2 linked regions of the Homo sapiens genome follow. The protein of the gene in region 1 purifies or fractionates together with the protein of each later gene. This does not show direct contact. Each region holds a gene or a part of one and is shown in the gene's direction. Other genes may lie near its edges.

Region 1 (3,752 bases):
AACATAGTGAAACCCCGTCTCTACCAAAAATACAAAAAAAAAAAAAATAGTGGGGCGTGGAGGTGCACGCCTGTAATTCCAGCTACTCGGGAGGCTGAGGCAGGAGAATCGCTTGAACCCGGGAGGCAGAGGTTCCAGTGAGCCGACATCGCGACACAGTACTCCAGCCTGAGCGACAGAGCGAGGCTGTGTCTCAAAAATAAATAAATAATAAATTAAAAAAATAAGAGTATCTATAACCTGGTCCCAGCCTGAATTTCCTTTTTCACCCCAACACGTAGCCCTAGTTACATTCTTCTGACGTCTGTAAACAAGCCCAGCCCTTCCTGTTGTGAAGCCAAGTTCAGGTGGTTCCTCTTCGCCTGACTGTTTTCCCATTCCACTTACCGGAAGCCTAGTCATCCTTCGGAGGGCTGTACGGGGGTTGCAAGAAGCAACGGAAACGGTTCAGCACCTGCTACCTTCCATCATATTCTTTTCAATAAAGGGGCAACTCCCGCCAATGGCAGTGTAGATTTCCTAACCTCTACACATGGAAGATTCACACCATTCAGGATTGTTGTTTAACTGTTGAGAGAGCACTTGATACTTAACAGCTTACTAGGCTACAAGACAGCGCAGGAAAGAATCCTCTGTTGTCCTTTTATGTTATCCTGAACAGTTGGTTCACAGAGTTACTGTAAACACACAAAACATGACTGCCAGGGCTTAGTAGTGAGGAAGGTGGGAACTAGTCCTGACTCAGTTAACTGTGCCCAGGAGAAGCTGCTTAACCTCAAAGGATTTCACTATTACTAGAATCAATAATACCAACCCTAGGGGTAAAAATAAAGATAAATGTGTGCAAATCCTGCCTGCAGTCTCGGGCACGTCGTGGGTGTCCAAGAACTGTTCTTAGGCAGCCGGTGGGGACAAAGTCTGTGTGCCTCCTGTCCTGGAATAGGTCCCAAGGTCGGCTTACTTGCAAAGCAAGGGTACGGCGCAAGAGTACTGAATACGGGTTGGAAGGGCGCTGGCTCTACCCTCAGCTCATAGGCCGGCTGGGCGGCGCTGACCAGCAGCTAGGCCCCGTCTTCCCTAGGAACGGCCACGGGGGCCCTGGGAGGGTATGAATGTCTTTTTGCAGTGAGGCCTCTGGACCCCGCGGCCCCCCGGCAGCGCAACCAAAACTCAGGGGCAGGCGCCGCAGCCGCCTAGTGCAGCCAGATCCCCGCCGGCACCCTCAGGGGCGGAGCCGGAGGCAGGGCCTTCGGGCCGTACCAACTCCACGGGGGCAGGGGCCGCCTCCCTTCGGCCGCGCGCCACTCAAGTACGGCAGACAGGCAGCGAGGTTGCCGAGGCCGAGGCTAGCCTGCAGCCTCCTTTCTCCCGTGCCCTGGGCGCGGGGTGTACGGCAAGCGCGGGCGGGCGGGACAGGCACGCAGGGCACCCCCGGGGTTGGGCGCGGCGGGCGCGGGGCGGGGCCCGCGGGGGGGGGGGGCGGGGCGGCGGTGCCCTTGCGGCGCAGCTGGGGTCGCGGCCCTGCTCCCCGCGCTTTCTTAAGGCCCGCGGGCGGCGCAGGAGCGGCACTCGTGGCTGTGGTGGCTTCGGCAGCGGCTTCAGCAGATCGGCGGCATCAGCGGTAGCACCAGCACTAGCAGCATGTTGAGCCGGGCAGTGTGCGGGTGAGAAGAAAGGGGACCCGGTCACGGCCCCAAGGGCGAAGGGGCTCGCGGCGGGCAGGGCCTCCGCGGCAATGGCGACAGTGGCCGCACCGGGCCTGGCGGGACCGGGGCACCTGCAGGCGGTTCTCCCGGGAGTGCCCGGCGCGGCGGCTGGAGCGGGGATCCGCAGGGAGGGGACGCGGGGACTCGGGGGACGCCGCGCGCTGCCGTTCCTCGGCAGCCCAGCCTGCGTAGACGGTCCCGCGGCGCTGACTGACCGGGCTGTGCTTTCTCGTCTTCAGCACCAGCAGGCAGCTGGCTCCGGTTTTGGGGTATCTGGGCTCCAGGCAGAAGCACAGCCTCCCCGACCTGCCCTACGACTACGGCGCCCTGGAACCTCACATCAACGCGCAGATCATGCAGCTGCACCACAGCAAGCACCACGCGGCCTACGTGAACAACCTGAACGTCACCGAGGAGAAGTACCAGGAGGCGTTGGCCAAGGGTAGGTTCCAGGCTGAGCGGCGGGAGGCAGTCCCCGGCAGAGGCGACCCCAGGGAGCCAGGCCCCATACGGACGGGCCTCTCCGTGGAGGAGAACTCGCTTCGTATTTGTACCGGTTCCGAGTTTTCCAGGCACGATAGTCTCTCTTTTAAACACATGGTCTACCTCATTGTAGAAGGAGTGCCTCGATGGGTTTGAACACACTTCTGTCATCTCAGGGAACTTGGGGTCCTGCGAAGGAGCTTGCCTTACTGTTGTGAGCCACATTCCGTTACACATATTGCCAGCACTGGTGAATTGTAGGGCCTGAAAAGAAAGCTCTACTGTGTCACTCGTTTTTTTTGCAAATTGAAATTGTTCTTGTTGTATAATGTGCTTTGGGGAAATGTTTGGTCTCTCAGGTAGGTGTGCCAGCCGTTTGCAGGAGGGCTGAGAGCGCCTGTCCACTGGTGGCCAGACATCATCGGGTCCGCAGGTGTCTCTGAGTGTCAGGGTCACCTCCTGATAGAAGTGGGAGTGGTGTCTTACTGCCAGGTCACACTGAAGGTGGGAGACAGGAGGACACTACTCCGTGCTAGGAACCATGGTCCTTGTCATCTTCCTGAGAGCAAACGGGGTCGGGACTCCAGCCTAGGACTTGGAGACTCCCTGCATCCCCAGCTACCCTGCAGGTGAAACTTCACTGAGCCCACTTGACTTCAGGTGGGAGAGGAGGAGGCACACCGTTGTGGTGTGCGTTACCAAAAAAGCAGTAACCTAACTGTGGAACAGTTCAGGATCTTTAGACTTGATACTTTTCTTGATTTCCCTTAGGGGTCAAAGTTCACAAGGAAAATAGCCCTTTAGTGGGAAACTGAAACAGGCTTGTTTTTATTTACTATTTACTCATATTTGTAATGCAATTAAAATATATGTTGTTAACTTTTTTTTTTTTTCTCAAGAGCTCGGTTGATAAAACCAGGGGTATGTGGACTTTTTGAGTCTGTGCCTTTTGGGGGTGTGTATGGGAATGTTATGTTTTAACGTTTTTTACAAAATAGTATTGTCTTTTTAATTTATTCGTTAGTGGTTTGCACAAGGAAGATAATCGATAGTCATGTTTTTTAGACTCTCTGTATTGCTTGGTAAGCTACGTAGTAAAAAATGTTTACTTTTCCTTAAATGTTTTGAATTTCGGGGTTATGAAATTTGTTGAGTAATTTTTAGACAGTCACATCTTGTTGACTGGAGGCATCTAGTGGAAAAATGCAGTATTTCAGCCTGATTGTGTTTGAAGTAAATGATTAAAAGAGGAGGAAGTTACCACATTCTGGAAGATTTACTTGAGACAGACGAACCTTGAATTACGGGAAAAGGCCCCGTGATTTAGGAAATAACAAATTTGGGAAACATGTAATGGGGAGAGACTGGGGAATACCCCAGTTGTGAAAGTACTTCCTGTAAGGCAACATCTGACACCAGGAACCTTTCTCTTCAGTATTTTAAAAACAACTTAATTTCAGTCCTTTACTTGTGGAATCAGAGCCTTACTTATGTAATACAACCCACTGGAAAAAAGCTTTTTATTGTATTGTACTATATTGTTTATAAGTGATTGAGTACCTG
Region 2 (3,652 bases), on another chromosome or scaffold:
CCTCCTAAGGTGTTGGGATTACAGGCATGAACCACCACACTTGGCTCTGTTTGTTTTTGTGACAGGGTCTTGCTCTGCCACCTAGGCTGGAGTGCAGTGGTGCACGATCTCAGCTCACTGCACCCTCTTCCTCCTGGACTAAAGCAATCCTCCCACCTCAGGCTCCTGCGTCTTGCTCTGTTGCCCAGGCTGGAGTGCAGTGGCGTGATCTCAGCTCACTGCAACCTCGCCTCCCAGGTTCAAGCGATTCTCCTGTCTCAGCCTCCCGAGTAGCTGGGATTACAGGCACCCATTACCATGCCCAGCTAATTTTTGTATTTTTAGTAGAGAAGGGGTTTCACCATGTTGGCCAGGCTGGTCTGGAACTTCTGACTTCGTGATCCACTGTCCTTGGCCTCCCAAAGTGCTGGGATTACAGGCGTGAGCCACCGTGCCCAGCCAGAAATACACGTTTTAAAGAATGACAACAATGCTTGCTTTGGCAGCACATATACTAAAATTGGAAAGATACAGAGAAGATTAGCATGGCTTATGCACAATGATGATATGCAAATTCATATCCGTATTTTAAAAAGTATTCCATATTTTAAAAAAAGACAGCAGAAAATGCATGGGACATTTCTGGAAGGACATAGAAGAAACGGAGTCATGGTTGCTTTTGAATTGGGTCCTTAATATTTGTATGGAAAGGAAAATTCCTTTTCAAGTACAGTAGGAGACTTTGTATTCAGAGCAATTATAATCTATTTATTGGTTATTTTAAAAAGTCAGTTAAGGCAAGGAATAAAAAAATACATATCATAAGCATTAAAAAAGAAATTAACACATATTGCCAGGTGCAGTGGCTCACACCTGCAATCTCAGCACTTTGGGAGGCTGTGGTGGGAGGATTGCTTGAGGCCAGGAATTCAAGACCCACCTGGACAACATAGTGAGACCCTGTCTCAAAAAAAAATTAGCTGAGTATGGTGGCATGCACATGTAGTGCTAGCTACTTGGGAGGCTGAGGTGGGAGGATTGCTTGAGCCCACAAGTTCGAGGCTGCAATGAGTCATGATGATGTCACTGCACTGCAGCTTGGACAACAAAGCAAGACCAAATCAAAAACAAAAAACCAAATAATAAAAAAAAAAAATCAAAAACAAAAAACCCCCCACATATAAAGATTTGTTTGTGGCCGGGCATGTTGACTCACACCTGTAATCCCAGCACTCTGGGAGGCTGAGGCAGGTGGATCACTTGAGGTCAGAAGTTCAAGACCAGCCTGGCCAAAATGGTGAAACCTGGTCTCTACTAAAAATACAAAAAAAATTTAGCTGGGCATGGTGGTGCATGCCTGTAGTCCCAGTTACTTGGGAGGCTGAGGTGGGAGGATGGCTTGAACCCGGGAGACGGAGGTTGCAGTGAGCTGAGATCAAGCCATTGCACTACAGGCTGAGTGAAAATAACCGCTTGCAGCAGTGTTTGTTCAACATAACTTGGTTGTGTCACATGGCATGGCTCTCTATCCCTGCCTGACTCCTTATTTCCATTTTTCTCTGACCAACTAAGTTAGAACCAATATCAGGAAGAGAGAATTTTCTTTCATGATTGGAAGTTATTTTGGAGAAATAATTCACCTATAAATGATGCTAATTTTTTTCTTTATAAATGTAGGCAAAGATTGCATCCTCTGACCCCAAGTCCTAGAAAACAAAATGCTTTCATTCTTTTTATTTCATTTCTCTGCATTAGGTTATGGATCGCCCTGGAAATTATGTAGAACCGACAATTGTGACAGGTCTTGGCCACGATGCGTCCATTGCACACACAGAGACTTTTGCTCCGATTCTCTATGTCTTTAAATTCAAGGTAAAAATGCATTCTGTTCGCTAGCCTGATGTTGAAATAAATGATAAGAGGAAAATGATGGTGGATTAAATTTCACTGGATGAACCTTTAAGAGGGTTTTAGAAAGTAATCTGAATAGTAGATATATGAAGGTTCAGGATAAAATATGAGATAAACACTTTAAAACTCTATAGCATGCCAAGCTAGCTGCCAGGGAAACCAGATTGGGTAGTGGACCAGTGTTGGAGTTTATGAAGTGTGTGGTCCTCATTTCCTGTGTCATCTTAATCCTGGGCTGTGTAGGCCATAGAGTCACCTTCTCCTGAACCGTGGTACTGGATAGTTTGATAGCCTGAGTGCTGTGAACATGTCAGCAGACAAAATGAGAACATGTGGGGGTAATACAAAGACCTATAGTTGGCCAGGCACGGTGGCTCACACCTGTAATCCCAGCACTTTGGGAGGGTGAGGCAGGCAGATCACCTGAGGTCAGGAGTTCGAGACCAGCCTGGCCAACATGGTGAAACCCCGTCTCTACTAAAAAACAAAAAAATTAGCCAGGCGTGGTGTTGGGCGCCTGTAATCTGTAATACCAGCTACCTGAGAGGCTGAGGCAGGAGAATCACTTGAACCCAGGAGGCTGAGGTTGCAGTGAGCCGAGATCGCACCATTGCACTCCAGCCTGGGCAACAGAGTGAGACTCCATCTCAAAAAAAAAAAAGACCTATAGTTATAAACTCCAGCAGAGGACAGGCTGCGGAGTTTTGTTTTGTTTTCCCTGATCTCATATCTTGATCTCAAACTGTAAAGGTTTTAATAGGTGAAGAAGCTGGGCACAATGGCTCATGCTTGTAATCTCAGTGCTTTGGGAGGATCACTTGAGGCCAGGTGCTCAAGACCAGCCTGACCAACACAGTGAGACCTTGTCTGTACAAAAAAATTAAAAAATTAGCCAGGTGTTGTATGTACCTATAGTCCTAGCTACTCGGGAGGCTGAGGTGGGAAGAGATCCTGTCTCTAAAACAAACAAATAAATAAAACCCAAAAAACCCACACAGGTGGATAAATTAGAAGATCTCATTCCCTAGCTTGAGACGGGCCCTAGCCTCGCCAGTAAATATTTAGGATTAATTTTGAGACTGCAGAGATTGAATCAATATTTGAATGTACCATTATTAACAGTAAAATAATAGTGAGAATTGCATCTTGTTGCAATTACATCATTGCTTCTTTATTTCTTGCTTTAAATTGCCTATCATTGTTTCACGTATGGGGACTAGAGAATATAATTTTGTGTTTTGTAATGTGTTTGTGTACATTATGAGGCTGTGTGAGCTCTTGAGCAAATTAGTCTCTGTAGGCCTCAGTTGCCCAATCTGTAAATTGGGAGGTAGTAGGAAACCTGTGTTATAGGATGAGGATTAAATAACTAAATGCATGTTAAGTGCTTAGATTGGTGTGTTACACACGTAAGAGCTCAATAGATATTAGCTATTATATGTAGTAGCTTGAATGAAAGGAAGAATGTGTTAATATTTGTTTCTGATAATTAGGGGAAAAATCCCAAAATTTTTTACTTATTATCAATGATCTGAATTATAAGAGAAACAGAGTGAGTAAACTTGACTCTTTGGTTTCCTTTTGTACACTGAAATTATACTGGTACACTTCAGGAAATGAGTTTAATGTCAGTGAACTTTGACTTGAACACTATAACATCTTACAGCTTCCAATGTCTCTCCTTTTAGAATGAAGAAGAGGTCTTTGCATGGAATAATGAAGTAAAACAGGGACTTTCAAGTAGCATCTTTACCAAAGATCT

What was found.
Region 2: the proteins of SOD2 (region 1) and ALDH7A1 fractionate together in Homo sapiens (co-fractionation; one large-scale study listed by BioGRID). This does not show direct contact.

What each region holds. Positions count from the first base shown.
Region 1 is NC_000006.12:159,691,057-159,694,808, reverse strand, and holds the start of SOD2 (superoxide dismutase [Mn], mitochondrial isoform A precursor), read left to right. Parts: upstream 1-1,567; 5' UTR 1,568-1,641; coding exon 1,642-1,664; intron 1,665-1,945; coding exon 1,946-2,148; coding exon of another isoform or gene 2,149-2,345; exon of another isoform or gene 2,346-3,752. UniProt on the Homo sapiens protein: Destroys superoxide anion radicals which are normally produced within the cells and which are toxic to biological systems.
Region 2 is NC_000005.10:126,550,220-126,553,871, reverse strand, and holds part of ALDH7A1 (alpha-aminoadipic semialdehyde dehydrogenase isoform 1 precursor), read left to right. Parts: intron 1-473; exon of another isoform or gene 474-570; intron 571-1,734; coding exon 1,735-1,851; intron 1,852-3,578; coding exon 3,579-3,652.